Homo sapiens: one gene and its partners. The protein of the gene in region 1 interacts with the protein of each later gene in a pairwise test. Each region holds a gene or a part of one and is shown on either strand. Other genes may lie near its edges.

The links.
Region 2: the proteins of TFAP2D (region 1) and FAM168A interact in binary tests that used the Homo sapiens proteins (3 or more experiments, as listed by UniProt).
Region 3: the proteins of TFAP2D (region 1) and PLEKHG4 interact in binary tests that used the Homo sapiens proteins (3 or more experiments, as listed by UniProt).
Region 4: the proteins of TFAP2D (region 1) and CEP76 interact in binary tests that used the Homo sapiens proteins (3 or more experiments, as listed by UniProt).

The regions. Positions count from the first base shown.
Region 1 is NC_000006.12:50,743,862-50,751,847, forward strand, and holds part of TFAP2D (transcription factor AP-2-delta), read left to right. Parts: intron 1-1,245; coding exon 1,246-1,387; intron 1,388-7,349; coding exon 7,350-7,463; intron 7,464-7,986.
Region 2 is NC_000011.10:73,594,399-73,602,805, reverse strand, and holds the start of FAM168A (protein FAM168A), read left to right. Parts: upstream 1-4,693; 5' UTR 4,694-4,883; intron 4,884-8,407.
Region 3 is NC_000016.10:67,282,341-67,290,326, reverse strand, and holds the end of PLEKHG4 (puratrophin-1), read right to left. Parts: coding exon 7,978-7,986; intron 7,825-7,977; coding exon 7,686-7,824; intron 7,586-7,685; coding exon 7,469-7,585; intron 6,053-7,468; coding exon 5,870-6,052; intron 5,615-5,869; coding exon 5,112-5,614; intron 5,038-5,111; coding exon 4,791-5,037; intron 4,054-4,790; coding exon 3,964-4,053; intron 3,883-3,963; coding exon 3,661-3,882; intron 3,579-3,660; coding exon 3,408-3,578; intron 3,328-3,407; coding exon 3,150-3,327; intron 2,430-3,149; coding exon 2,313-2,429; intron 2,161-2,312; coding exon 1,927-2,160; intron 1,852-1,926; coding exon of another isoform or gene 1,839-1,851; coding exon 1,723-1,838; intron 1,525-1,722; coding exon 1,519-1,524; 3' UTR 847-1,518; downstream 1-846. Other genes in the region: BTB/POZ domain-containing protein KCTD19, read left to right, coding at 645-758. UniProt on the Homo sapiens protein: Possible role in intracellular signaling and cytoskeleton dynamics at the Golgi.
Region 4 is NC_000018.10:12,677,822-12,685,807, reverse strand, and holds part of CEP76 (centrosomal protein of 76 kDa), read left to right. Parts: intron 1-4,979; coding exon 4,980-5,146; intron 5,147-7,365; coding exon 7,366-7,699; intron 7,700-7,986. UniProt on the Homo sapiens protein: Centrosomal protein involved in regulation of centriole duplication. Required to limit centriole duplication to once per cell cycle by preventing centriole reduplication.

The DNA of each region.
Region 1 (7,986 bases):
AAATTACAAAGTGCTACTAAGATACTTGTTGTTGTTGCTACTATTATTGTTATGACTATCATTTTCCTGGAGACAGGCAATCTTTGGTACTCTTTTATAGTCCCCATTACTTCTACCTAGCACTGTGCCTTGAATAAGGTAGGTGAGTAGATGCTTAGTATTAACAGATACACAGTACAAACTTGATTTTATTTTTAACTTTTAGGTTCAGGGGTGCATGTGCAGGTTTTAATATAGGTAAACTGTGTCATGGGGGTTTGGTGTACAGATTATTTCATCACCCAGGTAATAAGCATACTACACAATAGATATTTTTTCTGATTCTCTCCACCCTCCTACTTTTTACCCTCAAGTAGGTCCCAGTGTCTGTTGTTCCTCTCTTTGTGTCCATGTGTTCTCATTGTTAAGCTCCCACTTATAAGTAAGAACATGCAGTATTCGGTTTTCTGTTCCTGTGGTAGTTTACTTAGGATAATGGCCTCCAGCTACTTTTGCAAAGAACATGATCTCATTCTGTTTCTGGCTGCATAGTGTTCCATGGTATATATGTACTACATTTGTTTAGAAAACTTGATTTTTTAAATAAAAGTTTAGTGGACAGGTAAGATTTGCCTTGACTGAGCTTTAAAAATAACATTGTTTTCCAGATTGATTTTCATCACTTAATTTTACTTTGCTGGGAAGCCATTCGTACCCCATTTCTTAAAAATTTACTTGGGTTTAGGATTTTGTGAAAGAACAAAGTTATTCATGATTTTCCAAAGTTCTCCGACTTCCTCGAAAAGTTATATGGACCCTTCGCAGGTATTTTAATAGGTCTCATGGAAAAAACATCTGAATAGTTTAGACACACTAAGAATAGGTTGTAGGCTCAGCAGCCACAAAATGACTTGTCCATGGGGCCATTTTGCTTGGGAATCATGTGTAAAACCTAGGAAGTCAGTCTGGTCTAATGGCCAGAGCCATGAGGGGAATCAACACTTCTGGATTGTGTTTCTGTTTTTTTCCCCTCAATTTTCCACCTATCCCTGCCTGCTAAGTCACTTCTCTGTTCCTCAATTTCCCCTCATTCTTCCTCATTACCTCCCCTCCTCCCCCCAAAAAGGTCTTTTTTCTTGAATAGTTTAAGTAGGAAAAATGATTTGTCTGACCACAGCCAGGAGTGAGGCTTGAGCAAAATGCAAGACACTACTGTTATTAAGGTTGGATACTGGTGAGAAACTCACTTGTGTTATCTGCCAACAGGGGAGGCTTTGCACTTGGCTCGGGATTTTGGCTACACTTGTGAAACAGAGTTTCCAGCCAAAGCAGTAGGAGAACATCTTGCCAGACAACATATGGAACAGAAAGAACAGACAGCAAGAAAAAAGATGATCCTGGCGACCAAGTAAGCAGAATGGGGAAACCTCTGTGTGCTTTCATCTTCAGTATTTTTTTTTCATTTTCTTTGAAATGAGGAAAACAGTCTAGAAGGCACCCGTTCTCTAAAACAAGGAAGGTCTCACACACAAGCAGCTAGATATATTAAACAAGGACTTTCTACCCTTTGGTGCCCAGGCAAGGTTTACAAACTGCCCTTGATTAGTGATAAGGCTGTCATTGAAACTGATGAAAGTTCTTGGAAAACTTCTCCAGAATATGCAGAAATCCCTTGGAGAAAAACATGTTTAGGAAATGTAGATCCCAGGCAAATATGTCTTTGGTTGCTATGTAATTTGGTCTAAGGCACTCATTTTGCCTTAATAAATGAGGGTAAAATCTCAAAACACCATAAATGTTTGGGGAATGTGACAGAAGATGAGGTCACACGTTGGTGAGAGGTACCAGGGAGACCTCTGGGACCAAGGATCACCATGAGTGTCCCCATCCTCTCTTGTGTATGAGTAAGTAAATCATCCTTGTACTGCCTCATAGTGTTATTGTCTTTTTTTTTTAAGGTATAATGTATTTCAAAGCTTCTGGAAATTGTAAAAAGCCCAATTAAAATGCAAATTAAAATAATGAGGAAAACGATGTAGACAAATTTGACAATACAATAGGAAAGGGGGAAGCTTGCATAAGATGACTTATAAATTCCTTGACACTTGAAAGTTCGTCGATAATTAGTGGGAATACTACCATTTATTGTGTAAAAATCCAGCAGAACCGCAGATAGCACTGCAGGTTACGTTCAAAAGTTTTAGAGGAAAATCCTTCTGGTAGTAACCAATTCTTGTTATCCTCTCATTATTGAAATAAGTTATTGATACATATAGGCCATTAAGAATCTTAAATAATTTTTAATTCTATATTAAGATTTTAGAACTGATAGTTTCAGCTGGTTAAACTGTCATTTATGAACTAATTTTTTATTCAGGGAAAAGTATTTTGTTTGTTTGTTTGTTTGTTTGTTTGAGACAGAGTCTCACTCTGTCACCCAGACTGGAGTACAGTGGTGCGATCATGGCTCACTACAGACTCACCCTCCCCAGGTTCATGTGATCCTCCCACCTCAGCCTCCCGAGTAGCTGAGACTACAGGCATGAGCCAGCACACCCACCTGGTTTTTGTATTTTTTATAAAGATGCATTTTTGCCATGTTGCCCAGGCTGGTCTCAAACTCCTGGGTTCAAGCAATCTGCACTCCTTGGCCTCCCAAAGGGCTAGGATTACAGGCATCAGCCACTATGCCCAGCCTTAGGGAAAACTTTTTAAGAGAAAATCTAGGGCAGAGAGTATTAAAAACATCACTTCTTAGAAACTGATAACAAGTAATTATTTAATGCCTTTACAACATACTGGCTGAGATTTAAATTGGCTCAAAATGCATAAAACCAAAACTAAATATTCTCTTTTCTACCAGCTTCTTATGTAACATAGGACTTTTTACAAATTTAAGGAGTATATGGGATACTTGCCATCTCACAGGTTTGTCCAAGACACTTGAGTCCCTTAATTGAAGTTTACACACTTGCTGTGGCTGGCACTGTTTGGACTTAGGATTATATTTATCTATTGCTGTTCTGAAAGTACTAGATTATCTCATCTTGTCCCAAAGAGAAGAAAAGCAAAAGTTGGTGGCAGAAGGAATAGAGAAAAAGCAAAACAAGATTAAGAGGAAGGGAATAGCAGAAAGAGAGTATGAAGATCAAGAGATAGAGAAAGAAACTTATAAGGCAGGTATAAAAGTTGGACTTAAAATCTGGGAATAAATTTTGTGAAGTGGAAGCCCCTGAAAACTTGCTAGTAGAAAAGACCTAAATCTGAACCTTTTGCATATTTTGTCTTCTGGGAGTCTTTATCTTTACCATGTACTCATTTCCTTTTCCAAATAACTTATTGACTAAATTTTTTTTCCAAATAATTTCAGTCATATTTCAGTTTCTCCAAAAGGAGCTGAAAGCACATATAGTTAGTTTGAATCCTTTGCATTACCGTAGGAGAAAGATAAAGACTTGTTACAGATCAAGAGAATTATACAGTACTAGAATTTAGGTAATATCTCCCAGGTGTTTCCATAGCATATCATCCTAGCTGGCAGGATCATGCAGGTTTACCAATGCACATATCCATGTGAATTTTACTGTTGTCCCAAAATACAAATTTCCAAGAGAAAGCACCTTCATTTTTCCTACATCAAAATGACTTGGTTGTGGTTTTATCATGCATATTCAAAGACCTTCACTCCTTAATCCAGAGAAACACTTCATCTTGTCCTCCTTCCCCCAGGAATGGTTTTGGAAGTATTCACCACTACCATCATCAATGCAATAAATACAATTCCTATTTTCTTGGAGATTCCCATCATTCTGTTGAAGTGTGCAGCAGTCTCCAAGCACATTCAAATTGGCACCGAGATTGTGTTTTAATAGAAGTAAATGCTAGAAGAATTTGCGGGAGAAATGCTAGAAGAAATGCATCCATATTTGTCAAAATTATACTGAGACATCTATTTTCGGGTAGCGTATTTGACCAGGTAGTAGTATTTTCCTTTTACCTGGGATCTAAGTAACATACATTATTTTAGGTGATATTTTGAACTTTGATTTCATTAAACATTGTGAGAACATGTAATTTTATTTTATCTGTCTGCTCATAGCTGCACATTTGCAGACCATTAAATGTCAAGCAAGAATTGAATCCACTCATTTCAATTAACTTATCTTACAGAAGAGTAAATAGGAATAAACACCTGAAAATTATAATACAGCTTTATAATTTTTTATTTTTGTTACTTATATGCATCCTATCTTCTTATTGGACTATGTGAAATAAAAATCAGAGACTCCAGTCATAGCAAACATACGTAATATAACCAGTAATCACTATAACTAGATAAACTAGGGAATGTGTGGAAATAATACCCTTTTTGTGCAACATATGAATGGACCCAACATGTGTTCTGAGAAGTTTCTAATTTTACACCAATGGTAAAGCATGAGGTATTTTCATCAATTAAAATGGTAAAAGTTAATATTAAGTAGCCTATATGGATATTCATTACATCCTGGTCAGTTCACCTTTATTCATAAGACTTGGACAACATTATAAAAAATATATATGAAATCTAAAATTTATTGAATGAGAGATCCAATTGCTAATCTACATTGTCAGATTGGCCTACATATTTCTTTTTTACCTCCATGGATTACAGATTCAGTTGTCTTTAAGTATATTGCCAAGTATACAATTGTATAAAGGGCCTATTAATTAAGTGTCATTAGTCTTCTCATGCCACCTTATTTCCAGTGTTTTGTTGATTAAATATTTTGTGTAATTTAGACATTTATTTAGGCGAAAGAATAGAAACTGAAACATTTTTTGAATTCTAAAAATGAATCAGACAAAACGTGTTTATTTGGTTAATAGAAAACATATTTAAACCTTTTGATTGAATTTAGAACTAAATATGTCTAACATTTGATCTGCATTAAGGTAAAGCAGAATAGTTAACAACTTTTAGTGTTACCATACTGTTAATCATCTAAGGGTGAAACATAGAATTTGGATTTCAGACATCAGCTAAAAACTTACGTCCTTAAGGACAATGATGTAAGTGATAAAGTTAGAATGTATGATTCACTGAAGATCATCTTGTGTTACATAATTCATAATATGACATTTTGCCTTGAGATGTAAGATTGTTTCTTTTTGTAGATTTATAAATAAAAAATTAAATAAGAAGGAAAGTAGTCATAAAATCATAATTCTGTAAGTGCCATAATGAGATGATGATGATAATTGCCTACAGGGAATCTACAGGATTGTCATCTGTTTTCAAGTCTAAGCTTGAAAGTGAGTGAGTTAAGCTGTAGAATTAAATATAAAAGGGGGAGATATAATATAATATAATATTACTCCTGGTAGATCCTCCTGTGTGAATTATTTAGCATGAGTTAAATTTTTCCACCTCTTTAGCTTTCTCTAATTTCTTCGTCAATTTTATTATAACTTGCTGTATTATTCATACAGGAACAAAGTTGATTTGTCAACTTAAAAGTTTATTCCATTATCCAATTAATTCTGATATTATGCCACAATAACTAATGTTTCAATCTTTATTTTAATGTTTTAAAATTTATTTTAATCTGATAGAAAAACTAAAAGACTGCTAAAAACAAAAGTCTAAAAACAACACCAATCTTTCTTTGTAAGAATGGATCGTAATGATGACCTACCATACAGTAATTTGGAAATGATAGCATGAGGCTAAATTTAAAATTTTAGTTAGAAATTTCCATAAACAAAGACAACAAATCTATATTAAATAACACAAAGCACAAAAGATTATGATATACTCCTCAAAATGGCACCAAACACTTAGATTAAGTTGCATTCATTGATTAAAATATGGGCAATACACCTGAAAACAGGTATATTTCATAAAGCAACTGAGTCTCACAACAGAAAATGTGAGGAGTTCAGAAGAAACTGTCTGAATGAAAGTAGAAACACACAGTTGTTAAAAGCATGTATTCAGATGCTGTATCTCAGAGATCCAACTGGCCCTTTAGGAAGGGGATGTGAAGTATCTTATTTCACTGAAGCAGATAAGGACTTTGTTTTTCCTATCTCTGACTCCTTTTTACTTTCACCTGTGTTCTGCAAACATGAATAAGGCAATTTCTGTGAAATGACACAATATTTGAACACTGGCATTAAACCAGACCCTCATTGTTCATTTAAAATATCATAAGTGATCTTTGATGGAATTCAATAAATTTTAGATACCTGATTAAGAAGTCCCCACTGATTTTTAACTCAGTGATCAATTATTTGTACTTCAAGATATTTTGTCACTTTTTGGTAGTCATTTGTTGATGACACAAATGCCTTGCAGCAGAATAATGGCCGGGTTCATATTCACTTGAAATAATTTGACACTTCTATACCTGTCTTTGTTTACATTGATAATCAAAGTCAGGGCTACATTATTACATTTTTGCGACTGCCCATTGTAAAAACAGACAAAAAACCTAATTACTGTCATATTATCCCTTGATTTATGGAGTCACCTCACTTTAGATGATGGATGTTTTTAAGCAATTCTTTGGCAATCCTTTACTTTTCAGAGACTGGACTAATTTAGTGTTTTGTTGTTAAAATACAAAAACAAAAACAATATCTCTTTGTATAGTGTATTCTGCTTCTTTAGAATTATATCATTTGGAGTGTACATCACAAAGTCTTTACTGTTACATTGTAACACTGTAATTAAACTGAAACCAATGACCAAAAACCATAACCATTTAAAGCAAAGAAATGCAGCAGAAAAGTTACCTTGAGGGTAATTTTTGCAAGAAATTGGCTTACATGGAACATAATATAACCATTTTTTGTGAGGCTAGTGAACTAAATTACTGGTGATTATCTGCTTCAAATATTAGCATATAAAGTTAGCTCATAAGAATATGAACTCTAATGCAATATTGGGAAAAAAGGATTTTCCAAAGTCTGTTTGAATAATGGCTCTGAAGTAAGACTGTAACTTTAATTAAATTTGTTTACAGATATTATGTCTTAAAAAATCACATTTCAATTAAAAAGATCATAGTGATCATTTCATATGGGGTTCCCCTTATCCTGAGGTTAATTTATGAATAGTCATCTTAAAAATAAACATTGGTCTTATCAGTGCTCATGGATTGTTATTTGTTTGAAATGTTGTATGATTATCCTATAGCCGTTGAGAGCAAAGTCACCATTATGAAACTCAACTGTATGCTATGAATGGAACTTTTGAGGTTGCTTTATGAAATGTTATCTAGACTTCTTTTAAAAGAGAGAACAAGCCTTTGGTTAAATATCATGGGATGAAATTAAAGCTCAATTTGAAAATTTCAATTTTAAATTTGATTCTTTTATTTTAGACAAATCTGTAAAGAATTCCAAGACCTCTTGAGCCAAGATAGATCACCACTGGGATCCTCCAGACCCACTCCAATTCTAGACCTTGACATCCAGAGACATTTAACACATTTCAGGTAAGACTGGTTTTCCAGTTTGCTCAAATTCTTTACTAACCCAGATGCTTGTATTCCTATCACAGTTCTATTTAGAGATACCACTTATATGTTTATATGGTGACTGTCCTAGTCCTTTCAGATGGGCTATAACAAAATACCTTAGACTGGGTAATTTATAAACAACAGAAATATATTTTTTACAGTTTGGAGGCCTGGGAAGTCTGAGATTAAGGTGCCGGCAGAGTTAATTAGACAAAGGCTTGCTCTTTGCTTCAGAGATGGCACCGTCTCCATTTTCTCCCACATGATGAAAGGGCCAAACAAGATCCCCTGGGCTCTTTTATAAGGGCACTAATCCTATTCATGAGGGTTCTGCCCTCATAAGCTAATCACCTCCTAAAGACTCTATTTAATACTATTGCATTGGAGATTAGGTTTCAGTATATGAATTTGGAGTGGGGTGGAGGGGACACACATATTCAACCATAGCAGTGATTGACTGAATTTTTTAAAATTCCAAGCTTGTAAAATCAAATTGAGA
Region 2 (8,407 bases), on another chromosome or scaffold:
GTCTCACTCTGTCATCCAGGCTGGAGTGCAGTGGCACGATTTCTGCTCACTGCAGGCTCTGACCCCCAGGTTCAAGTCAAGTGATTCTTCTGCCTCAGCCTCCTGAGTAGCTGGGACTACAGGTGCGCACCACCACACCTGGCTAATTTTTTGTATTTTTAGTAGAGACGGGGTTTTACCATGTTGGCCAGGGTGGTTTCAAACTTCTGACCTCAAGCGATCCGCTCATCTCGGCCTGCGAAAGTGCTAGAATTACAGGCGTGAGGCATGATGCTAAGCCCAATTTTTCTATTTTTTGAAGAGATGGGGTCTCACTGTGTTGCCCAGGCTGGTCTTGAACTCCTGGCCTCAAGGGATCCTTCTGTCTTGGCCTCCCAAAGTGCTGGGATTATAGGCATGAGCCACAGCACCGAGCTGCTAAATAATATATCTTGAGGCCAGGCGTGGTGGCTCACGCCTGTAATCCCAGCACTTTGGGAGGCTGAGGCAGGCAGATCACGAGGTCAGGAGATCGAGACCATCCTGGCTAACACGGTGAAACCCCGTCTCTACTAAAAATACAAATAAATTAGCTGGGCGTGGTGGCGGGCGCTTGTAGTCCCAGCTACTCAGGAGGCTGAGGCAGGAGAATGGCGTGAACCCAGGAGGCAGAGCTTGCAGTGAGCCAAGATCGCGCCACTGCACTCCAGCCTGGGCGACAGAGAGAGACTCCATCTCAAAAAAAAAAAAAAGTATATATATATATCTCTTGATAAAAATTCAGTATAGAAAAATATTTTTAAAAGTTAGAAATCACTTAACTGTGCTATATCAAAAACTTATCCAGGAATTAAATTGGTTTAATATAGTTCATTTCTTTAAAACTTTCATAAATTCATTAATGTTGATATAAATCAGAGTTGAAAGTTTACATATCATGATTTTGCAGGGATTTAGAGAGAGAATTCTCAAATGGTTAGATGAAGGGTTTGGACTGTAAGTGGTATTTTACAGTCTTTAAAGCACTTTCACACCCATTCTTTCACTGGATTCTCCTAATAACCTTATGAGGTGGCAGGGCAGGCGGGACTCATTCCTTCCATTTTGCGGATGTATTATAGTAACTGAGATTTCGAAAAGTTAAGGGACTTACTAAATGTCACCCATCATGTTTATGGCAAGTTCTAATTTAGGATCTGATTCTCAGATTACTAGTCCAGTAAGCTTCTCATACCTATTTATTCTCCTAACTCAGACAATGCTTTACTTGCTGGATAGACCAAGCTAGCCCCTACTAGGTAGACCGCCTAGCCCCTACTTTGTGCCACTAGGAGAAAGAAGTGGGGAAATGGAAGAGGAGAAGATGGGGTTTAGAAGAGGGCAAGGTCAGTGTAACACTAAGAGGAAGAGACTTGTTTGTCACATATCACCAACATATGATAGGTATCTTTCTCATTATTCTCAGAAAAGGGAGAAGAGGGGCTGAGATTTTAAGGCTGGGAGAATAGGATGTAAAGGGAGATGGGCAGTTTGAAAAAGAGAGTGCCTGATGTATTTGGGGAAAGTGAGTCCTGAGGGACAGGAGTCTAACTAGAGTGAGGTGGGGTGAAGCTAGAGACGCTGCAGCGGGATGGGGACTAAGTCATCCTCTGAGCTAAGCAACCTGGGCTTTTTCCTGTAGGCCTGTAGCAGAGCTAAAGTGTCCTAGTTGTTCTTACAGAACACCAAGGAACAATGGCATATAAAATTGAAAATATCAAATTCTGCTGGGCGCAGTGGCTCATGCCTGTAATCTCAGTACTTTGGGAGGCCGAGGTGGGCAGATCACTTGAGTCCAGGACTTTGAGACCACCTTGGGCAACATGGCGAAACCCTGTCTCTATAAGAAAAAAAAAGAAAAAAGAAAAATTAGCCGGGCATGGTGGTGCCTGTAGTCCCCGCTACTTGGGAGGCTGAGGTGGGAGGATCACATGAGCCCAGGGAGTCGCTGCGGCAGTGAGCTGTGATCATGCCACTGAACTCCAGCCTGGGCGACAGAGCGAGACTCTGTCTCAAAAAATGAAAAAAGAGAAGAAAATATCAAGTCAAACAGGGCTTAAATGAAAAAAATCGTGAAATCAAAAATAATCTGATACTACATTCTGTATTCTAGAAGAGCTGGACACAAGGGTCAGAAGAAGAGAAAAACTTTTTTAAAGTGCAAGACATATAGCTTTGTGTAGGCAGAGCTGCATAGGCCCTTTACAATAACTCTGTACCTCTCTCTTCACTTCCTCTCCCCACCGTGATCTCTGGCCAACAGATTAGAAACCACTGCTATAAGAATTCAGATAAGCCGGGAGCGGTGGCTCACGCCTGTAATCCCAGCACTTTGGGAGGCCGAGGCAGGCGGATTACCTGAGGTCAGGAGTTCAAGACCAGCCTGGCCAACATGGTGAAACCCCATCTCTACTAAAAATACAAAAAAAAATTAGCCAGGCATGGTGGCACATGCCTGTAATCCCAGCTACTCGGAAGGATGAGGCAGGAGAATTGCTTGAGCCCGGGAGACGGAGGTTGCAGTGAGCCGAGATTGCACCACTGTACTCCAGCCTGGCTGACAGAGCAAGACTCTGTCTCAAACAAACAAACAAACAAACAAACAAACAAAAAAGAATTCAGATATAAGGAAAACCAGTGTGTCTAAAATATGTTCTAGGGAAGGTAGGACTTTGGCTTGAGTTTGAAGAATGAGTAAGAGAAAAGGAGAAAATGGGTGTGGAAAGACCAGAAATGGAAAAATTTTGAGAAGACGCATTGAAAATTGAGAAAATTCTCCCTTCCAACTTTATGAATTGGAAGTGACTACTATTATTTGTTTTAATAGTGGAACTATTAAAACCAGGCAGGCACAGTGCTGAAGCATGAATGAGACAATGGGAAGCCATGGAAAGCATCTAGGCAGCAAAGAAAGGTTGTTAGATTTGGAAATTATGTTTTTTGGAAGTAGCACAGCTTAAAAAATTGTCCAGGTGTAGTGTGGCTCACACCTGTAATCCCAGCACTTTTGAGAGCTGAGGCAGGAGGGTCTCTTGAGGCCAGGAGTTTGAAACCAGCCTGGGCAATATAGTGAGACGACGTCTCTTACAATTAAAACAAAACAAAAAAGAAAACAAAAAACAGTCGTTATGTGCTCCTTTTAAACAATTCAAACAATATGAAAACAAAAATTACAGTCGGGCATTGTGGCTCATGCCTGTAATCCCAGCACTTTGGGAGGCTGAGGCGGGCAGGTCAGGAGGTCAAGAAATCGAGACCATCCTGGCCAATATAGTGAAACCCCATCTCTACTAAAAATACAAAAATTAGCTGGATGTGGTGGCGCGCGCCTGTAGTCCCAGCTACTCAGGAGGCTGAGGCAGGAGAATCGCTTGAACCCGGGAGGCAGAGGTTGCAGTGACCTGCGATCGCCCCCACTTTACTCCAGCCTGGCTATAGATCCAGACTCCGTCTCAAAAAACAAAAAAAACCTACGTGCAATCTGACACCCTTTCCCCCAAGATAATCATTGCTAATATTTTGGCGAACCTCTTTCCTGAAATCTCTCCATGCTTGTAGAATATTGTGTCAAACCTCACATAAATGCACTCGTGTAGACATGCTGTTGTGTAATCAACTTTTTCCCCGAAGAATAAATTGTGAATAGCTTTTCATGTCAATAGATTTATATCATTTTAAATGGCTCCTTAGTATTGCATTGTATGTATATGTCACGTCTTATTTAAGCAGCACCCTATCGATGAACATTTACTCCCTTCATAATTAACTACGTCATATAACAACTTTGTGCATTCATCTTTTCGAAATTGTTCGATCATCTTTTTAAGGTAAATTCTTAAAAGTAATGGAGCTGGGTCAAGAAGAGGATATGCCCTTTGTCGTTTGGATTCAAGTTGCCGAATCGTCCTCAAATTTGCAGGGAGACCAGCGAGGAAGCTCCGGCATTAGTTCTGGTGAGAGACAGCTGAAACGGAGATGGCGAGGGATGAACAGAATCACAGGTGATCTAGCCCATCAAGGCCCATCCTCGGTGGGCTGGCGTATTCCTTCCCTTTTGCCTCTCTTTCACTTCTTTTTCTTAACATGGAGGAAGAACCGAGAACTCCATCTCCCAGCATTTCGCAGGGACCACACTCCCTGGGAACTGTAGTACCGGGTCTGAGAAGGGTCCGGAAGGAGAATAGGAAGCTGAGGGGCATGCTGGGAGGTGTAGTCCAGAGACAGAGACGAGAGGGAGAGGGAGAGAGGGAGAGAGGGAGAGAGGGAGAGACAGAGAGTGTGTGTGTGTGTGTGGGCGGGGGGAGGGGGGTGTCTATGCAAAGAGGATGGAGACGCTGCGAGTACGGCCCCTTGGGGATGGGGCCTCGGGCGACCTGACTTTCCTCACAGGTGGTCTTTGAGTCTACAAAATTCGCCAGCGGATGGTTGGCTTTATTCCACTGTCCGTGACCGGAGAGGGCGCGGCCCCTCTGCACCGGGCTCGCGGCGGGAGGCGCAGGCCGCGCGCGGGCTAAAGCAGGGCATGCCGGGAGTTGTGGTCCCGGCGCTCTGAGGCTGTGGGACGTGTCGCGGCGCCGCGCCGGCTCCTCCTTCCCTGCCCTTCTGAGCGGTCCCCCGCCTCCTCCCTCCGCCTCCTCCTCCCTCGCCCGCAGCCGAGCGTCCCCTCCCCCCACCCGTCGGGCTCCTCGGCGGCTACTGCAGAGGATTCAGAGCCGAGTCGCTGAGGAGGAGGCTCCGGTCCCCGCGCGCCATCCGCCACCCTACTGGACACGGGCGAGAGCGTCGCCGCCGTAGCCTCCGGAGAAGACAAGGGCATCGCCGCCTCAGCCGCCGCCGCCGCCGTTTTCGCCTGCAGCTGCTCACCGGTGAGGAGACTCCCCCCGCCACAGGGTCCGCTGGTCCTGAGTCTGGGCCGGTGGCGCTGGCGAGAATGAGAGGGGAGGCTGCGGAGCCCCCGTGCAGGTTGGGGGGAGGGGGTTGAGGTCGCGATGGAACGGCGGGCTGGCGGGGGAGACTTGTCCAGGCGCTGGCCGGGGGTGGGGTGAGGGTGGGACCCAAGCAGGTTGGGGGGCGGGCGACAAGGGAGGAGGACTTTTGATGGAGAATAACCCAACCTGGGACAGGAGAGTGGGGTGGGGGCGTCGGGTTGGAATTCGGGATGGTCTTGGGGCGAGGTGGAAGATGAGACTAGGGTGGGATGGCTTTTAATGGGGGAGGGGACTGAATGAGGGTGGTGATTTGGGTTTGGCCTGGAGCAGTTGACAGCTTGGGATCTGAGCTGGGGTGAGGGGCAGGGGAATGATTTCAACGGAGAGTGAGTGGCATGTACAGGGTTGGTTAGGGCCCTGCGTAGTGTTAATTCAGAAGGGTGGAATTTGGGGTGGACCTGGGGCAGGATGATGGAGGTGGCAGGAGTTGGGGGTGAGGGGCTTGGCATGGGTTGAGACCCAAGCTTGAAGTGGGTGTTTGTCATCTGGGGCTGGTGGAATTTGTGGAGACTTATGGAATAGCATGGGTTAGGATAGAGCAGAAGAGTGCAATTTGGGGGTTTCCTGGGGTGGGCTGATGGAGGTTGGAATAGGAGTTGGTGGAGGTGGGACATTCAGTGAGGGGAGTGTGATGGTGAGCTGGCAGGAAGGGGCCACATTGGAAGTCAGGCCCGAAATGGGAGGACAGGGATGGAAATGGAGTGTGGGGCACAGTGGGTTGGATTTAGGGTGATCTTACAATCACTGGAAAGGGCATGGTGGCTCCTTGGTTGCAGAGTCAAGGCAGAGGGCACATAAAACATCACTGGGCTGCTTTCATTGAAAGGATAGCGGCAGGGGTGAGCAAAGTTGGGGGATGGTATCTTGAAGAAAATATCCCTTGGCCAAGGTGGCAGAGGGAGTTTTGGAGAAGGACTTTCGGAGATGAGCTGGTAGGCCTGGGGAGGTGGTTGCTGATGGTGAGGTGGCACAGGGGAAATTTAAGGAATGGGAGACCTGGAGCTGTTGGTATGGATGGGGCAGAGAGGATGGAGAGGGACAGTGAGCTGTGCTGGAGAGCAGGGGGGAATTGGGTTGGATTATTTTGGTGGTGAAGGATTGGGGTGGCCTCCAAGAGACACATGAGGGTTAAGGGTTGGAATACTTAAATGAACAGCCTTGGTGGCTGTGGTTGGGTGAGAGGCAGTAAGGCTGTTAGAGGGGACTTTGCAGGGGACACGGAAGAGACCTTCTCATTCTTAGGGGCCATTTTAATCTGTTCGGGTGATGTTTTTGTTTGTTTTATTTATATTAGTAAAATTTGGAAGTCAAGTCAGCCCAAAGGGTAAAGTTGAAAGGGGATTTAGTTAAGGTAGAATTAAGGAGGGGAGGGTGTCTTCTGTTATTTGTATATCATAAAAAGTAAGTTGGGGGAAAAAAGCATACTTCCAAACTAAAGGTGGGAGAAGATAAACTGGAATGTAATGGATATCTTTCTATATGATGTCTCTGCCTTTTCTTTTCCCCTCTCCTCCTGGTGTATTTAAAAACTAGCCAGGCATTTTGAAATTTAAATAGATTTGATGAGCTTGAGATTGTTAAGGGTGCATTCCTTGCTTGAGAACTAATGAGTGAGCCTGAAAAATATGAGACTGAATTTATTTTGTAGGTAGGTAACAAGCACATAGGCAAAAAGAGCTTGGGCCTTTTTTACCCCCTCTTTAAATTGATTGCTTGAAGACGCCATTTGTTAGTGTCCTGGTTTGCAAGGCAATTAGGCCCATCATTGTATTGCAGGCTAATAATCCTGAGATGAGTCTTGGCACCACCGCTTTATGTAAACAGAGAAGACAGGAAATATGGAAATGTCATAAATATTCATTGGTGAGATGGTTTGGTACTGATGGAGTTTTTCATATGATTGTCTTTTGACATTGATAAGATTTAGAATAATTGGACTGTATTTCTAAAGATTGAATTTTCTTCCAAAGGAATTCAGGTGATCAGAATTCTGTCAGATGTGAATAAATAAAGCATATTGAGTCATTTTTATTTTATTTTTTGGGGAATGATGTTGATGTAGTCGCATTGTATTAACTACAGAAACAGCATCTCCACCTATTCATCAGAAATTCGATTTAAACCTTAGCGATATGCTCATTCTTAGGGCAGAACGATGATAATGGAAGGTACACAGGAGTGCAAATGGAGGGAACATCTTTAGAGAAACAGTTCTATGGACCTAATTGCATTAACTGTGATAATATGTTAAACATAAAGTGGCTGTTGATTAGAGCTCAGACTGAAAAAAAATGAGGAGGGATGTAAAGAAGATAAAATTGGCACCATTGGGATCGAAATAATTCTTTTTATTTTTGTTCAAGCTTCAGAATTTAGCTCGCAAACAAACCATTTTCCTTGGCTTTCACGATTGAGCATATAAAAATACCATTTAGAATCTTTTTTTTTTAGCTCCAAAATGGGCAGAATGATGGAACGTTGGACTTATCCTTTGAATTGAAAGTGTTTTGTAATGAGGAAGCTTTCTGTATTATAATAAAGATCAGGTTTGAGCAGTTACCTGTAATTCAGTGAGACTGTAATCTAATGTGAGCATTTCTCTCATAACTTTACTCTGAGGTCTAGACGTTGTTTTTGCAGATCTGCAGGCTTGGTCTAGAGGTGGGATGTTTATATTAAAGCCCTAGCTTTTGAAAGCCCAAAATGAAAAGTGCCTGGGAGAAATGTGTTGGTGGATTTTTTTTTTCCACAGCCGTGGTTACCTGTGTAGTAGTAATGTGTTTTTGTATCTTTACCTCATTTGATCCTCCCGATATCTTGGTGAGAAGAGAGCAGATGGAGGTATTGATAGACAGAAGCCTTTGTGGAACGAATAGCCCATGAGTTTAGGAGTTGAGTCCCAGATTCAAATCCCAGTTCTACTACTTGAAAGCTGAGTGATTTCAGTCAAGTCATTAAAAACCTTTCAGATGGCCAGGCGTGGTGGCTCACGCCAGTAGTCCCAGCACTTTGGGAGGCCGAGGTGGGTGGATCACTTGAGGTCAGGAGTTTGAGATCAGCCTGGCCAACATGGCAAAACCCCATCTCTACTACAAATACAAAAATTAGCTGGTAGCACGTGCCTGTAATCCCAGCTACTTGGGAGGCTGAGGCAGGAGAATTGCTAGAACTGGGGAGGTGGGCAGTGAGCCACGATTGCGCCATTGCACTCCAGCATAGGCAACAAGAGCGAAACTCTGTCTCAAAACAAACAAACAAAAAACAAACAAAAAACCTTTCATATTTAGTGGTAATGGCTGCAAAACATTGTGAACATAGTTAATACCACTGAATTGTACACTTAACTTTGGTTAAAAAGGTAAAAATACACACACAAAAAAACCTCAAAAACCAAAAAAACT
Region 3 (7,986 bases), on another chromosome or scaffold:
GGGCGCCTGTAGTCCCAGCTACTCAGGAGGCTGAGGCAGGAGAATGGCGTAAACCCGGGAGGCGGAGCTTGTAGTGAGCCGAGATCGTGCCACTGCACTCCAGCCTGGGTGACAGAGCGAGACTCCGTCTCAAAAAAAAAAAAAAAAAAAAAAAAAAAAGAAAATATTCAGTAAGGGCAAAGGAATGATCAAGGGTTTTTTTCTTTTTCCTTTTCTGATTCCTTAATCTAATTTTAACATTGAGGCCGAAACGATTTAGGCAGTTTCTCATTGATCTGACACTTCTATAATCAAGAGCATTATTATAACACCTTTCACCACAAGCCCTCTAGTACCCAGTTACCATTAGGCATCTGGCTCATATGTGGTTTGTAAAGGTGAAGTCAGCATGTATGGCTAAAAAGCAGAAAACCAGTAGCAGGAAACAGATTTTTGAACCTCCGGTCTTTCTGCTTTGTTCCCTGATAGCCATTTCTAGCCCCACCCTGTGAGATGCCCTGGGGCAGAGCTGGGCCCTAGAGCATCAAAAGTCCCCAACAGCCGGGCTTGCCCTGTCCCTGCCCCAATGGGAGAACCCCACCCACATGGAGCTAGAGTAGACAACTGGCCAGGAAATCAGGGATAAGACTGGCCTTTCCTTCCAGCTTACACTGCCCTTCGCCAGGAAATATGGCCGATGCATGGACCTGCTCATCCAGAGGGGCCTGTCTAGGTCTGTCTCTTACTCCATCCTGGGAAAGTACCTACAAGAGGACTAGGGTGCCCAGAGATGCAGCCCCTCATGCCCCACCCGCCAAGTCTCATTTTAATTGGAGATAGCCCAGAATGCATGTGCCCATCAGAGGGTACATATCAGTCTATTTTTTATTATAAACAAATAAAAGATTAAATCACACATCAAAGACCTAGACTCCTTCTCTGAGACACCAAAGGCCTAACAACCAGTAAGATAATTTTAGACAATTCTATTGAAAGTTATTCAAAAGGCATCAAGTCAAAATAACGAAACTGCCCCAGTAAAAAGGGGCTGGGCCTGGGGGCCAGGAAAGGCAAGCATGAGGGCCCAGTAGAGGTGGACCTGTCCCTATGGTAACTGAGCTCGGCTTTAAGGCCAGGCATTGGGGATCAGCTGCTAGGAGCCCACCTGTGTTCTTCCTGAGGGGTGGGGGCACCCTAGTCACTGCCTAGAGGCACATGGTCCCCCACCAGCCTACAGCATGGAAACACCCAATGTCTGCTCTAGCCTATTCTTAACCCACAACTGGGATGGGAGCTGGGGACAGGAGAAGGGGTCATGGGGCCAGGAGCCTATTCAGGCTCTACAACCAGACTTCCCTAGAGAGGCCCCGTGCCAGTTAGTCCAATGGCCACACACATCAGAAAGGGTAGTCAACAGCGTTGCACATGTAGGTTGGAGGTAGCCCAGGTGTCAGCCACACCCTGGTCACAGCAGATCCAGAGAGGCAATGTTCCTTGGAGCTGCAGGCTGCTGGATCTACTGCTCGTCCAGTCCCGGGCTCAGACCTGCAGGGCCAGGCCAGGCATGAATGCCTGCTTCCCTGACTCTGGACCCAGGAGGTGTCTGGGGAATGGCTCTGGCCCACCCACCCCAAGCTCTACCCAAAGTAAAGGCCTAGCCTGGGCTGGGGAGGGGCTGGTCACAGTCACAGGCTCAGCTTGGGCTGGGGAAGGGCTGGTGGGTATAGGGCAAATGGCACTCACACAGGGTAAGTCCTCCAGGCCCCTACCCAGGGCCTGCCCTGACACACAGCTGCTGTCAGAGCCACTGGAGCCACTGGCTGATGGGCATTGGGACGAGATCTCTGAGTCCTCAGCAGCTAGGGAGGGAGACTGGGTGAACTGTCAGCACGGGAAGCCCCAGACCCCAAGCCATGCCCTCCTGCCTCTGGCTAGGCCCAGACATACTCAAAGAGGGCTGGCCGCCCAGCTCTGCCTCAGCCTCCAGTGCTGCTTCCTCTGGGAAGCTGGGATACAGGGGACAGCGGAGACCCAGAAGAGCTGGGTCTCTGTACAGGTGCAGGTTGAGGGACCCCAGAACAGAGCAAGAGGCAGGGTCTCCAGGAAGGGAGTTCGAGGCCCCCAGGTAGAGGCTGTCATGGTCAAACGGGGCTACGGCAATGGACGCCCGAGAGCGAACTTCTGCATAAGAGAGAGGGTCAGGTTGGGACAGGCCAGAGCCTAGCCTGGCCCCAGATCCCAAGGAAAGTGCGGGCCAGCACTAATGGAGGGCCACAGTGCTTCCCGCACAGCTTTCCTACTCCCACCCCCACACCCTGTAGCCTGCCTGCTACCTCGGCACTTCAGGACATAGTTGACGGTGCGGTCGTTGATGGCTTCCTCGCTGGGAGCAATGTCTCGGAAGGCCTTGTTCCCCACACCCATGGACACCATCTCAGCCATGCGCACCTCTGGGTGGAGAGTGGACATAAGTGGGATGCTTCTGGACATAAGCCTGTCCTTGGGCCTCTACCACCCCCCAGATAAGTCTTTCCTGTACACCTCCATCCAGCACATTAACTGTCCTGTGAGCTGAGCCTTTCTAGTGCCAGGTGCTCTCCTCCCAACAATCCTGTGGGGCAGGTGCCATATTCCCCTTTTAAAGATGAGGCCCCTGGCTGGGCGCAGTGGCTCACGCCTGTAATCCCAACACTTTGGGAGGCCGAGGTAGGAGGATTGTTTGAGCCCAGGAGTTCAAGACCAGTCTGGGCAATATAATGAGACCTCTATGAAAAAATTTTACAAATTAGGCATGGTGGCACATGCCTGTAGTCTCAGCTACTTGGGAGGCTTAGGTGGGAAGAATGCTTGAGCTCAGGAGGCAGAGGCTACAATGAGCAAAGATCATGCCACTGCACGCCATCCTGGGCGACAGAGCGAGACCCTGTCTCCAAAAATAAAGAGAGAGAGAGCCATGATGCCCCTTATATTCAGAGAAGTTCACGTTGTGTCCAAAGTCAGAGGCAGTGACAGCAAGGCTGCCTGGCTTTGAAATCCTTTCTCCTGCACTGGTGGCTGTCGCTGGGCCTTCTCCCCACTTCCCGAGCTTTTCCCAGGTCTCTGGGCTCCTGTGGGTCAATGTAAGCTCTCCAGTGAGGGGAGTGTGGCGTGAAGGAGGGGCATGGACCCACCCTTGTTGTGGACGGCCTGCCTCCAAAGCAGGTGGGAGATGTCAGCTGTCCAGGCCTGCTTGATAGCCAGGCTGGAGGCCTGCAGCACAAAGGTGTCCCTGGCCTTGCGGCGGCGGAACCAGATCTCGAAGCGCAGGTTGCTGTTCCCACAGCACTCAGTGAGACCAAGGTCTGCCATCTGTGGCCAGCGGGAGAGAGGGGCTTGGTAAGGCATGGGGCGGGAAAACAAGTGGTGGGGCCTGGGGTGGGCAGGCCTACCTTGAAGGAGCGCTTGTAGGCAAATGTGTCAACCCCTGTGGGCCCATGGCGAGGCTTGCTGAAGAGCAGCAGCTCCTCAAAAAGGAAGATGCGGCGCACGGACTTGTGGCGCCCAGTGCGCACCACAAACTCATCCTGTCGCACCAGCTGCCCCTGTTCCTTGAGGTTAACCTGCAGAGTTGGGGGCTGGTGGGTGGCCAGCCTCTTCTGCCTTCTTCTTCACACCCACTGCCCTTGCCCTGGGATGACTCACATCACAGCCCTGGATGGCGTCCATGGCCAGCAGGTCGTTTCCGTGCCGCAGCTGGAAGTGCACAAGGCTCTGGGCCTCCCGCAGCGCACTGAGCTCCTGCGTGGGGCCCCCGCAGGCCCGTGCCAGCTCCTGCAGCAGCAGTGCGTACTTGCCCATGCGCTGGATGGGCTTTAGCAGGTAGGAGGCCAGGTCCAGGTGGTCCCCCAGTGCTTGCTGCTTGTCCTGTGGGCGGATGGGAGGCCACTGAGTGGTTTGGGGGCACTCCCCGCATCCCCTACTCCTCCTAATCTCAGGTTCACTTACCTTGAAGAAGGTGTGCCCATAGCTTGACATCAGGGCATCGGAGCGAGGCTTATTCTTGCTGTAGAGCGCGTACATCCCAAACTGCACCCTCTACAAGGACATGTGGCTCAGCCCCAGTGCAAAGGGGCCAGCTCCCTAAGGCTGGCACAGGCTAGACCACCCTCAGCTTGAGAGGACCAAAATGCCAGTAGATGCCTCTTAGGGAGGCCTCCCCTACAGACCCAGTCTTCCCTGCTTTGAACAAGGGGTGATTTGGCAAGAACAGTACTGGGCAAAGGGGGTGTGCCCACAGGCCCCCAAGGAAGAAGCCCCTTGCCCTCAGACTGAGCTCCTGCCTTCAGCTCTGCTCCTCCCACGGCTCTAAGAGCTCACCTCACCTGGGACTGTCCTGCTCACTACACTCAGCCACCTCCTTGGCAGGCCCCCTTTCCTCCACACGACCTTGTACTTGCTCTTTCCTCTGGGTGGGACACTCACTCCAGCCCCTCCCCTATTCCTCAGCTTAAACATCAGCCTCTCAAAGACTTCCTCTTGTACCAGGTGTCCTGGCACCGCACTCAGGCCCTCTAAAGTGGAGCCCCTGCCCCGCCAGTAATTCACAAGCATCTATCCTGCTTATTTTCCTCCTAGCCCCAACTATAATCTACAAGTATCGTTCTTGCTTCTATGTCTCCTCTACTGGACTAAGAGCACCCTCAGGTGCAGGAGCCTGCCAGTCTTGCTCATAGCTATACTCATAGCACAGGGACTGGCACCAAGCATGTGCCCAGCAGCAACTTCGGGAGTGTGGCAGAACGAGCTGATACCACATGGCCTGTCGGGCTTACATGGCGCAGGAAGGCATAGGCCACTCGTGGTGGGTGCCGGGTGCAAGCCTCCAGCTCACGCAGGAAGAAGTGGCAGTGGAAGTCCCGCAGCTTCTCCAGGTTGCCAAAGAGGTGGGCACGCTGACCGCGGAGGCCCTGGGGCACATCGGGGCGATCCAGCTCGGGGAAATAGTTCTCCATAGTGTACTCTAGAGCCCGGACATACTCCCGCTCCGTGGCCACCATCTCTGCCAGCACCAGCTGTAGCCTACCAGGTATGGGGAGTCAGGACCCAAGACATCTCTCCTTTACTGCCCTCCCCGCCCTGCCTACTGCCCATACCTGTTGAGGCTCCTGGGGTCAGAGCTGCCTGGTGGAGGCACAGTAGGGGATGCCTGGGGCAGGGCACCTCCTCCAGCCTCTGGTCTGCGGCAGGCAGCAATAGTGGCCGCATGGTGGCAGTGGCAGGCAGGTTCACTGAGACTCTGCCCCAGATTCCGATCGAAGCTGTAGGCCTTCCTCAGGGGAGGGTGGGCAGGTGCAGCGGGGACCTGGCTGACACACAGGCTAGCTGTGCTGCCCACCGGTGGTAGCTTCAGTGAAGCCTCAAGCTTTTGGTCCAGGGCCAGCCAGGTGTCCTGGCACCGCGCCCAGGCCCAGCGGCACTCCTGGCGGATGGCCTCTGAGCCCAGCCCCGTGGCCAGAGCCCACATCTTTCGGAAGTGGGCAGGAGGCAAGTCAGGGTGCCTGGTCCAGTGCAGCTGCAGCTGCTGCAACACAACCCCCGGGCGTTCCTGCTCCAGCTCTGCCAACACTCGCTGCCCCTCCTCAGCCCACGTCAAGGCCTGCAACACCAGGGCCGGACAAGCATTAGAGGAAGATCCTGCCAAGCCTGCTGGGCACTCTGCTCCTCTACCCACTCCCCATCCCCACAGGATGCTGTCCAGGACACAGCCCCAGTGACTGGGTTTTAGGGTCAAACTGAAGACCAGGGAAGAGAACAGGCAGCATGACCAAGAAAAGCTCAGGCTCTGCTGAAGCTGGGGCTGCCATCCCTCCGGCCTCATGGATCACTTGGAGCTGGGGAGACTCTCACCCACCTCCCTGAAGAGCTGAAACAGCCTCTCAGCATCCGCCAGCCGCTGGCACCGCTGGGCCAAAGCCCTAGAGAATTCAGTCAGCTGGGCTCGCAGGGCCAGAAAGCGTGCCCCAGGGGGGTCCAGTTCAGCCGCCTCCCAGCCAGTCAGCGGCTGCAGAAACTTCTCCCCTTGCCTGACCTGCTCCTGCAGAGACAGAGACTAGGCTCAGCCAGCCCAGGCCTGGCGGTCTAGCCCCCAGACTCAGATACTTCCTGCTGACATATCGACATGTCCCCATCAAGTCTGTCCTGTGGTGGAACATCTACCCGTATCTCCTACTCCCCACCCACATCCACTCCCCTTCTCCACAGCCAAAGTTCCTAGAGGAATCATCTGTCCTCACCGTCTCGTCTCGCCCTCCGCACCAGCCCTCTCCAGCTCCACTCTGCCCCGTCCCCAGCGCTTCTCAGGCCTCACTGACTCCAACTCTCAGCGTCATTCAGCCCACTCTCTACTGGGCTCCCCCAGCTCCTCCCCACGCTCCTGATTCTCCTCACTCTTCTCTGGTGGCTCGTCCTGCTCCCCTTCCCTCACCTAGGCCATTAAACACTGGGGATCCTGAGGACAGTGCACTCGCTCTCCCAGGCACTCTTGTGTGACCAACTTCAAATGTCATCCAAACACCTGGACCCACCAAGTGATCCTCTCCAGCTAGACCTCTCCTCTGAGCTCCAGGCCCAAGACCCAAGGGCCCTCCTCTCATCCCTCACAGCCATCTCGAGCATGCCCAAGACCGGACTCTTGAATGCCCTTCCCCCAAGATGACCTCATCTCCTAGTCTCTCAGGGAACAGCACCCATTCATCCTTGCAACATCCTTGTCCCTTACCCTCCCACATGGGTACATAGCAAATCCCATCAACTTCTCCAACCCGTCTCCCCTGCCACTATCCTGGCCAGAGGAGGCACTATTTCCCACCTAGACTACTGCAATTGCCTCTTCACTGCACTCCCCATGCCCATCCTCCAAGTCACTGTCTACTCGGAAACGAAGGCAATCTTCCTAGAATATGGATCTGATTACATGGCCTTCCTGATTAAACTCCACACTGACTGCTACAGGGCCCAGTGATGTGGCCACTGACCAGGCTTGTCCCACCGCAACTCCCCCAACTCTTTCTTCCTCTCTGCTCTGCATTTCAACCTCACTGGCCTTATGATTCCTCAGGCACACCGTCCTCCATCCTGCCACAGGACCTTTGCACATGCTATCTTCCAAGCCTGGAATGTGCCCCCATCCTCAACCCTCTTCTGCCTGGTTGACCTCAACTTATCTTTCAACTCTCAGCTCAAAAATCACCCAAAAAAAGCTTGCCTGACACTCCTGCTGGGTAAAGTCTTGGTTATACCCTCAGGCAGAATCACCTGCACTGATTCTCTCCAGAGATCTTGCCTGGGTTTACAGGCACATATATGACTGTGATTAATTACAACTGATATCTTCTATGGGACTATAAGGTCTAAGAAAGCAAAGGATTGAATTGCTTTCACACAGTTCTGCATTCCTAGTTCCTGGCATTGCATCCCAATACCCGTGGCATGAACAAGTGACCACATATACCTGGGCAACCTGGTACAGCTCCTGAAAAGAGCCTTGGGCCTGGAGCAGCATGTCCAGCGAGGGCTCCCCAGCCTCCTCCAGTGCTGGCCAGCCCACCTGCTGCAGCCACACTTCAATCTGGAGGAGCACAAGCAGGGAAAAGTGAAGAGAGCTGCTATGGACTGGGGGCTCACGTCTGAGATCGGGGCAGGGCCCACTCTGGGCAAGTAGTTCCGACCTGGTGCAGTCCGCTTTCCCGGGCCTCCAGTGTTTGGACCAACTCTAGGGCCTGTATTCGCTGGTTGCTCTGCAGGGTCAGTTGGTGCAGCAATCCATCCACCCGGTCATATAGCTCGTCAGCCTTGTCCATTGCCGTCCTGGTGTAGGGTATACCATCTTAGACCCCCTGCCTTGCACCACTCCACCCTGTCCTGGCACCACAGTCCTACCAGGTTCTGAGCTAGCCAGATGAGTCCTGGCATAGAATATGGTGGGCTGGGGCAAGATCTGGGGGCCGGGCTTGCACTCACCTGTAGTCT
Region 4 (7,986 bases), on another chromosome or scaffold:
TACAAAAAATTATCTGGGCATGGTGTCGTGTGCCTGTAATCCCAGCTACTCAGGAGGCTGAGGCAGGAGAATCACTTGGACCCTGGAGGCGGAGGTTGCAGTGAGCTGAGATCGCACCATTGCACTCTAGCCTGAGGACAGAGCAAGACACGTCTCAAAAAAAAAAAAAATACTATTTTATATAAGCCTTGAGTATCCACGGATTTTGTTTTGCAAGGGTCCTGGAACTAACCGCTTTGGGGTGCTATCAGCTTGACCACGTCAGAACCTTGTTCTGTTTTTCATAACATTTAAATATCAATACACAAAAAACTCAGCATCTTTATTTTCTCATGTAGTTTCTTATTTATTGTGATTTCTGTGATGTAGGGACCTACAAGTACTAAAATGTCAGAAATCAAGTTGCAGAATGAATTAGGAACAGCACCAGGACCAGACCATGGCTTTCTGGTACTACTGATGTGTTGCAATTTGCTCAGATAATACATCTTTAAAAAAGAGAAAATAAGGCTGGGCGTGGTGGCTCATGCCTGTAATCCCAGCACTTTGGGAGGCAGAGGTGGGTGGATCACCTGAGGTCAGGAGTTCAAGACCAGTCTGACCAACGTGGAGAAACTCCGTCTCCACTAAAAGTACAAAATTAGCGTGGTGTGGTGGCACGTGCCTGTAATCTTAGCTACTGAGGAGGCTGAGGCAGGAGAATTGCTTGAACCTGGGAGGCGGAGGTTGTGGTGAGCTGAGATCGCGCCATTGCACTCCAGCCTGGGCAACGAGCGAAACTCCATAAAAAAAAAAGAGAAAATGGCAGTACAAAATTAATATAGAAAAAATATTAAAATAGAAAAAAATCTTGAATTGCATGCTATTTAGTTTGTTTAGTTTGTATTTAAATACAAATGTATATTTAATTACACTTTTTGAATGACTTGATTTTAGTAAACTAATTTTATAGATTATGGGATATTTCCTAATCTGTGTTCTAAAAATGTTGATAGTATGATAACAAACAAGTAAAACTATCTTTAGGCCAGGCGCGGTGGCTCACGCCTGTAATCCCAGCACTTTGGGAGGCCGGGGAGGGTGGATCACCTGTGGTCGGGAGTTCTAGAACAGCCTGGCTAACATGGAGAAACTCCATCTCTACTGAAAAAATACAAAAATTAGCCAGCCATGGTGGCGGGCTCCTGTAATCCCAGCTACTTGGGAGGCTGAGGCAGGAGAATCACTTGAACCTGGGAGGTGGAGGTTGCAGTGAGCCGAGATCACGCCATCGCACTCCAGTGTGGGCAATAAGAGCAAAACTCCATCTCAAAAAAAAAAAACAAAAAACTATCTTTAGCCTGGGTGACAGAGCGAGACTCTGTCTCAAAAAAAATAAATAAAGGTGACAGCAGGCCAGGCATGGTGGCTCATGCCCGCAATTCCAGCACTTGGGTAGGCCAAGGTGGGCAAATCACTTGAGCCCAGAAGTTCCAGACAAACCTGGGCAACATGGCAAAATCCCTCTCTCTAAAAAACTATAAAAATTACCCAGGCATGGGCCAGGTGTGGTGGCTCACGCCTGCAATCCCAGCACTTTGGGAGGCTGAGGCGGGCGGATCACACGGTCAGGAGATCGAGATCATCCTTGCTGATACGGTGAAACCCCATCTCTACTAAAAACACAAAAAAAGGAGAATCACTTGAACCCATGAGGTGGAGGTTGCAGTGAGCTGAGATCGCGCCACTGCACTCCAAACTGGACGACAGAGCAAGACTCTGTCTCAAAAAAAAATACATATATATATGATATCATATATATGATATATATCATATATATATTTAGATTTTTTACTGTACAAACAACAGCATTACAACAGTAATGGTGAAACTTTACCTATAATTCTATTCCTAGTTTATTATTTCTTTTTATATTTTTTCTGCTGTATATGTATCATTTATTTCATAATTATAATTGTAAATAAATTTTTGTATCTTGCTTTATAATTAAGCATTATGCTATGAACATTTTTCTATGTGTTGCTACAGTCTTTCTGATTTCCTTTTTTTTTTAAATGAGACAGAGTTTTCCTCTTGTCGCCCAGGCTGGAGTGCAATGGCATGATCTCGGCCCACTGCAACCTCCGTCTCCTGGGTTCAAGCGATTCTCCTGCCTCAGCCTCCCTAGTAGCTGGGATTACAGGTGCCCGCCACCACCCCCAGCTCATTTTTGTATTTTTAGTAGAGATGGGGTTTCACTGTGTTGGCTAGGCTGGTCTCGAACTCCTGACGTTAGGTGATCTGCCCGCCTCTGCCTCCTAAAGTGCTGATTTCCGTTTTTTAATGAGTGTTTTAAGTTTCCTTGAGTCAATATACAAAATACATTTAACTATTTCCCTATTGTAGGAACTGCCAAGTTAGGCTCTTTTTTTTTTATTCAGTGGTTTTGTTGTTGTTGTTTTCTTTTGTTTTTGTTTAGGACGGGGTCTCGCTCTGTCGCCCAGGCTGGAGTGCAGTGTCACGATCTCGACTCACTGCAACCTCCGCCTCCCAGCCTCAAGCAATTCTCCTACCTCAGCCTCCTGAGTAGCTGGGACTACAGGCATGGAGCCACCATGCCTGGCTTTTTTTTTTTTTTTTTTGGTATTTTTAGTAGAGATGGGGTTTCTTGGCCAGGGTGGTCTCAAACTCCTGGCCTCAAGTGATCTGCCCGCTTCAGCCTCCCAAAGTGCTGAGATTACAGGCAAAAGCTGGCACACCTGGCCATAAAGTTAAGCTCATTTTAAATTTTTTAATGTTGCCATGAATGAACTTTCACACTGACTATCTTTGCAGATATTTTTATTTTACTTCTGAATTTTCTTTAGGACAAAATCTCAGAAATAATTGGGTCTAAAAGGTTGATTAAGCCAGGCGCAGTGGCTCATGCCTGTAATCGCAGCACTTTGGGAGGCCGAGGTGGGTGGATCACTTGAGGTCAGGAGTTCAAGACCAACCTGGCCAACATGATGAAACTCTCTCTCTACTAAAAATACAAAAATTAGCTGGGTGTGGTGGTGCACGCCTGTAGTCCTAGCTACTCAGGAGGCTGAGAATCATTGGAACCCGGGAGGAGGAGGTTGTAGTGAGCCGAGGTCATGCCACTGCATTCCAGCCTGGGTGACAGAGCGAGACTCTGTCTCAAAAAAGAAAAAAGTAAATTAAAAAATAAAAGATTGGTTATTACATTTTTGTAAAGCCACTTGAAGAACTATAAAATGCTATTTGTTTTCTTACAGTTAATTTTTTTTAAAAAACTTTAGCACCACCAAATCCAATTTTTTGGAGAAAGAAATTTCTTGGCCAGGTAAGGTGGCTCATGCCTGTAGTCCCAGCACTTTGGGAGGCTGAGGCAAGCGGATTGCTTGAGTCCAGGAATTCGAGACCAGCCAGGGCAACTTGGTGAAACCTTGTCTCTACAAAAACACAAAAAATAGCTGGGCCTGGTGATGAGTGCCTGTGGTCCCAGCTATTCAGGAGGCTGAGGCGGGGGAATCACTTGAGCTGGGGACATCAAGGCTGCAGTGAGCTGAGGACGTCAAGGCAGCATTGAGCTGAGATCATGCCACTGCACTCCAGCCTGGGTGTCAGAACTAGACCCTATCTCAAAAGAGAGGAAAAAAAAAAGAAATTTCTTCATTCGGACACTCAACTCAAATAGTTATTTTTGCTTTCGCGTGTAGTCTTCCTACACTTAAATACGAAATTGTAACCATAGTGTTTAATATCTTGGTAATTTTTTTCACAGAACACAGTATCAGATATTTTCTTTTCTTTTTTTCTTTTTTTTTTTAGAGACAGAGTCTCACTCTGTTGTCCAGGCTGGAGTGCAGTGGCACGATCTCAGCTCACTGCAATCTCTGCCTCCCAGGTTCAAGCGATTCTCCTGCCTCAGCCTCCTGAGTAGCTGGGATTACAGGCACACACCACCATACCCAGCTAATATTTTCTATTTTTTTATAGGTCTTTATAACTTTTTAAAATTGAAAGTAATATAACCAAAGAAAATCTGGAAAAAGAGTGGAAAATTATATATAACCTCCCCAGTAATAACCATTGTTGGCATTTTGTTGTTGTTCTTGCCAGTCATTTTTCTTATGTATGTATTTTCTTGAAATTATCACATATAGATACTATCAGTCATTGGTTGAGTGTTTTCCATTTATTTGCATTTCTTGCTGTATGACTTGTTTGCTTGTTTGTTCATGTACTTCAGCTATTAATCTATTAAAATATTCCAGGCTGGGCACAGGAGCTCATGCCTGTAATCCCAACACTTTGGGAGGCTGAGGCAGGAGGATCACTTGAGCCCAGGAGTTCAAGAGCAGCCTGGGTAACACAGTAAGACCCCTGTTTATACAAAAAAAATTTTAAAATTAGCTAGGTGTCATGGTGCACACCTTTAGTCCCAGCTACTTGGGAGGCTGAGATGGGGAAATCACTTAAGCCCAGGAGGTCAAGGCTGCTATGAATCATGTCACCAGCCTGGGTGACAGAGGAAGACCCTGTCTCAAAAAAAAAAAAAAAAAAAAATGTTCTACTTTTCTTTCTGTGTTGTGTGAGTTCTTTATAAACATTTTTTTTTTTTTTTGGAAACAGAGTCTTACTCTGTTGCTGAGGCTGGAATGCAGTGGCGCGATTGTAGCTCACTGCAACCTCCGCCTCCCAAGTTCACGTGATTCTCTTGCCTCGCCTCCTGAGTAGCTGGGACTAATGGTGTGTGCTACCACACCCGGCTAATTTTTGTATTTTTAGTAGAGACAGAGTTTCCTTATGTTGGCCAGGCTGGTCTTGAACTCCTGACGTCATGTGATCCACCCGCCTTGGCCTCCCAAAGTGTTGGGATTACAGGCGTGAGCCACTGTGCCCAGCCAATAAATTTTTATTATAATTTAGTATTTAAGTATGTAATGAGGAAATAATATGGAAGAATGAATACTTCATTTTAATTTATCTTCCAGGGTGACTGTGAAGATCACGCTAACCTTCTGTGCAGCCTTCTTCTTGGATATGGATTAGAAGCCTTTGTTTGTGTTGGGACCAAGGCAAAAGGAGTACCTCATGCATGGGTTATGACTTGTGGAACTGATGGGGCCATCACTTTTTGGGAGAGTTTAACAGGACACAGGTTAGTTTACTAAGTTTATAAGGATATTAAAATGAAGTTATAAGTTTTTTTTTTTTTTTTTTTTTGAGATGGAGTCTCGCTCTGTCGCCCAGGCTGGAGTGCACTGGCACAATCTCAGCTCACTGCAACCTCCACCTCCCAGGTTCAAGCCGATTCTCCTGTCTCAGCCTCCCAAGTAGCTGGGATTACAGGCATGTGCCACCGCACCTGGCTGATTTTTGTATTTTTAGTAGAGACAAGTTTTCACCATGTTAGCCAGGCTGGTCTCGAACTCCTGACCTTAGGTGATCCACCTACCTCAGCCTCCCAAAGTGCTGGGATTACAGGCGTGAGCCACTGTGTCCGGCTTAAGTTATAAGTATTTTAAATTATAAGGGTTTTTTGTCCATATTGATGGTACTTGAAGGTACGTGTTGATGATTTTAGTTAGAGCCTTTTCAGTGATTATGTAAAAAAGTACTTCAATTATGGCAGCCAAGTAAATGAACTCTAAGAAAACTTTTACCTCAAATATTCTTTACCAACATGATGTTGGTAAACAGTAAATTATGTTTACTAGTTTTGTATGATTAGCATATTTTTTTTTCAGTTTTCTCTTTTTTTTTTTTTGCAGTGTCTCATTCTGTTGCTCAGGCTGGAGTGCAGTGGCACAGTCACAGCCCACTGCAGCCTCCCCCTCCTGGGTTCTGGTGGTCCTCCTACCTCAGCCTCTTGCGTAGCTGGGACTGCAGGTGTGCACAGCCATGCCTAGCTAATTTTTTTGTAGGGATGAGCTTTTGCTGTGTTGTCTAGGCTGGTCTTGAACTCCTGGGCTCAAGCAGTCTACCTGCCACGGCCTTCCAAAGTGCTGAGATTATAGGCATGAGCCACCACACCTGGCTGGCATATGTTTTTTTCTGATGATCATACCTAAGTCTGAAAATAAGTTCAAGTTGTAAATGATGATTTCTTTTTAAAATTTGATGTGGTTACCATCTCCACGTTGGCAAATCCACTGGACACATTTTTTAAAGTACTTTAGCCTGTCATTAGATTTTGAAACAGCTGAGTACTTCTGTTGTAGGACTTCTTCCTTAGTTCAGCTAAGAGCTGAGTCCTTGTCACATGGCCACGAAAAATTAGGCTCGCAGGCAATTTGAAGGGGGAGAAAAATGGAATTTATTGAACAAAAAGGAAAAACACTGGGAAACGGACGCTCCACAAAGCCAGAGTGCCTGCTAGTGTGCTTCGTGCCTGCTAGTGTGCTTCCTGCCTGCTAGTGTGCTTCCTGCCTCGCAGATTGAATTCCAGCTTCCACTCAGGAAGAGGAGGGGCCAAGCTCCTCCCCACTGCAAATTGCTCGAACTTCTGTGGCTTCTCCCCAGTGTGCACTCCTCCCAGTGCACAGGCTGGTTGGAGTTTCTCTGGGGACCCCTTTCCACCTGGCTGTCTCACTTCTTTCTTCATGGAACATTCTCTTTCCTTAGCTTCTTTTTTATCATTGTCTTTCAATATTTATTATTCCTCTCTGGCTGTTCTTAGTTTTTCCTTCATCTTGTCTTTAAATGTGTGTGTTCTAGAGGCCCAGCCCTGGGCCCTCTTTTCATTCCCGAGTCCTCTTTCTCCCTGGTTGATAATCATGCCTAATAATGTTTTGGTTAGTTGTGCCTAAAAATGCATAACCAAATTATTTTAATTATGTTATCTGAGGCAAACTTTTTTTATTTTTATTTTTTTTTCTTGGAGATGGAGTTTCGCCCTTGTTGCTCAGGCTGGACGGCTCACTGCAGCCTCCGCCTCCCGGGTTCAAGCAATTCTCCTGGCTTAGCCTCCCGAGTAGCTGGGACTACAGGCACGTGCTCCCATGCCCAGCTAATTTTTGTATTTTTAGCAGAGACGGGGTTTCACCATGTTGGTCAGGTTAGTCTCGAACTCTTGACCTCAGGTGATCCCCCTGCCTCGGCCTCCCAAAGTGCTGGGACTACCGCATCCGGCCTTTGATCTTAACAGTATACATAGAATGTATTCTGTTGTTAACAGAGTTGGTTTCAATATTGTAAAGACGTACCATACAATTAATACAGAGTAATCAAATTGTGGAAATATAAAAAAGAAAAACAAGTATTAAACTGTAGTTCTGAGAAGTAGTTATGGCCTTAAGTGTTAGAATAATTTTCTCAGTAAGATGCTGCCTTTTTAATTTTTAAGTTCTCATATATAAAATTATTTAATTTTTTTAGGTACATCCATAAACCTACCAATCCTGATGAACCTCCAGTTGCTGAACAGCCCAAACCACTGTACCCATATCGAACAATTGGTTGTGTTTTCAACCATCAGATGTTCCTGGGAAATTGTCAACCCTCTGATGCAGTAGAAACCTGTGTATTTGATTTGAACGATGAATCCAAATGGAAACCCATGAGTGAGGAAGCAATTAAATCTGTGTGTGCTCCTGGAGCTACAACATCCCTTCCTCCCTTTCCACCTCTGTGTGCATCCACAATTGACGCGTCAGTAACAAGTAATGAAATTGAAATGCAGCTGAGGCTCCTGGTGTCAGAACACAGGAAGGTAATTCACACTGAAATAGTTGTAGTTTCATACTTCTTTTCATTTATGTATTTAACTGTTTTTTGGTGTGTGTGATAGTGCCAGTCACTATTCTAGCCCTGAACAAAACAACTACAGTCCCTACTATTATGAAGCTTATAATTTTGAAAGTCATGAGAGTTCAAGTTCTGAGACTCAAAAATCTTCAAATTAATTAATACTTATAGAATGAATTACTTCCTCCTAGAAATGAAGAATGGTGAACTTGTTCACATCCCTTAGAGTCAAGATTTTTGCTGAATACCACT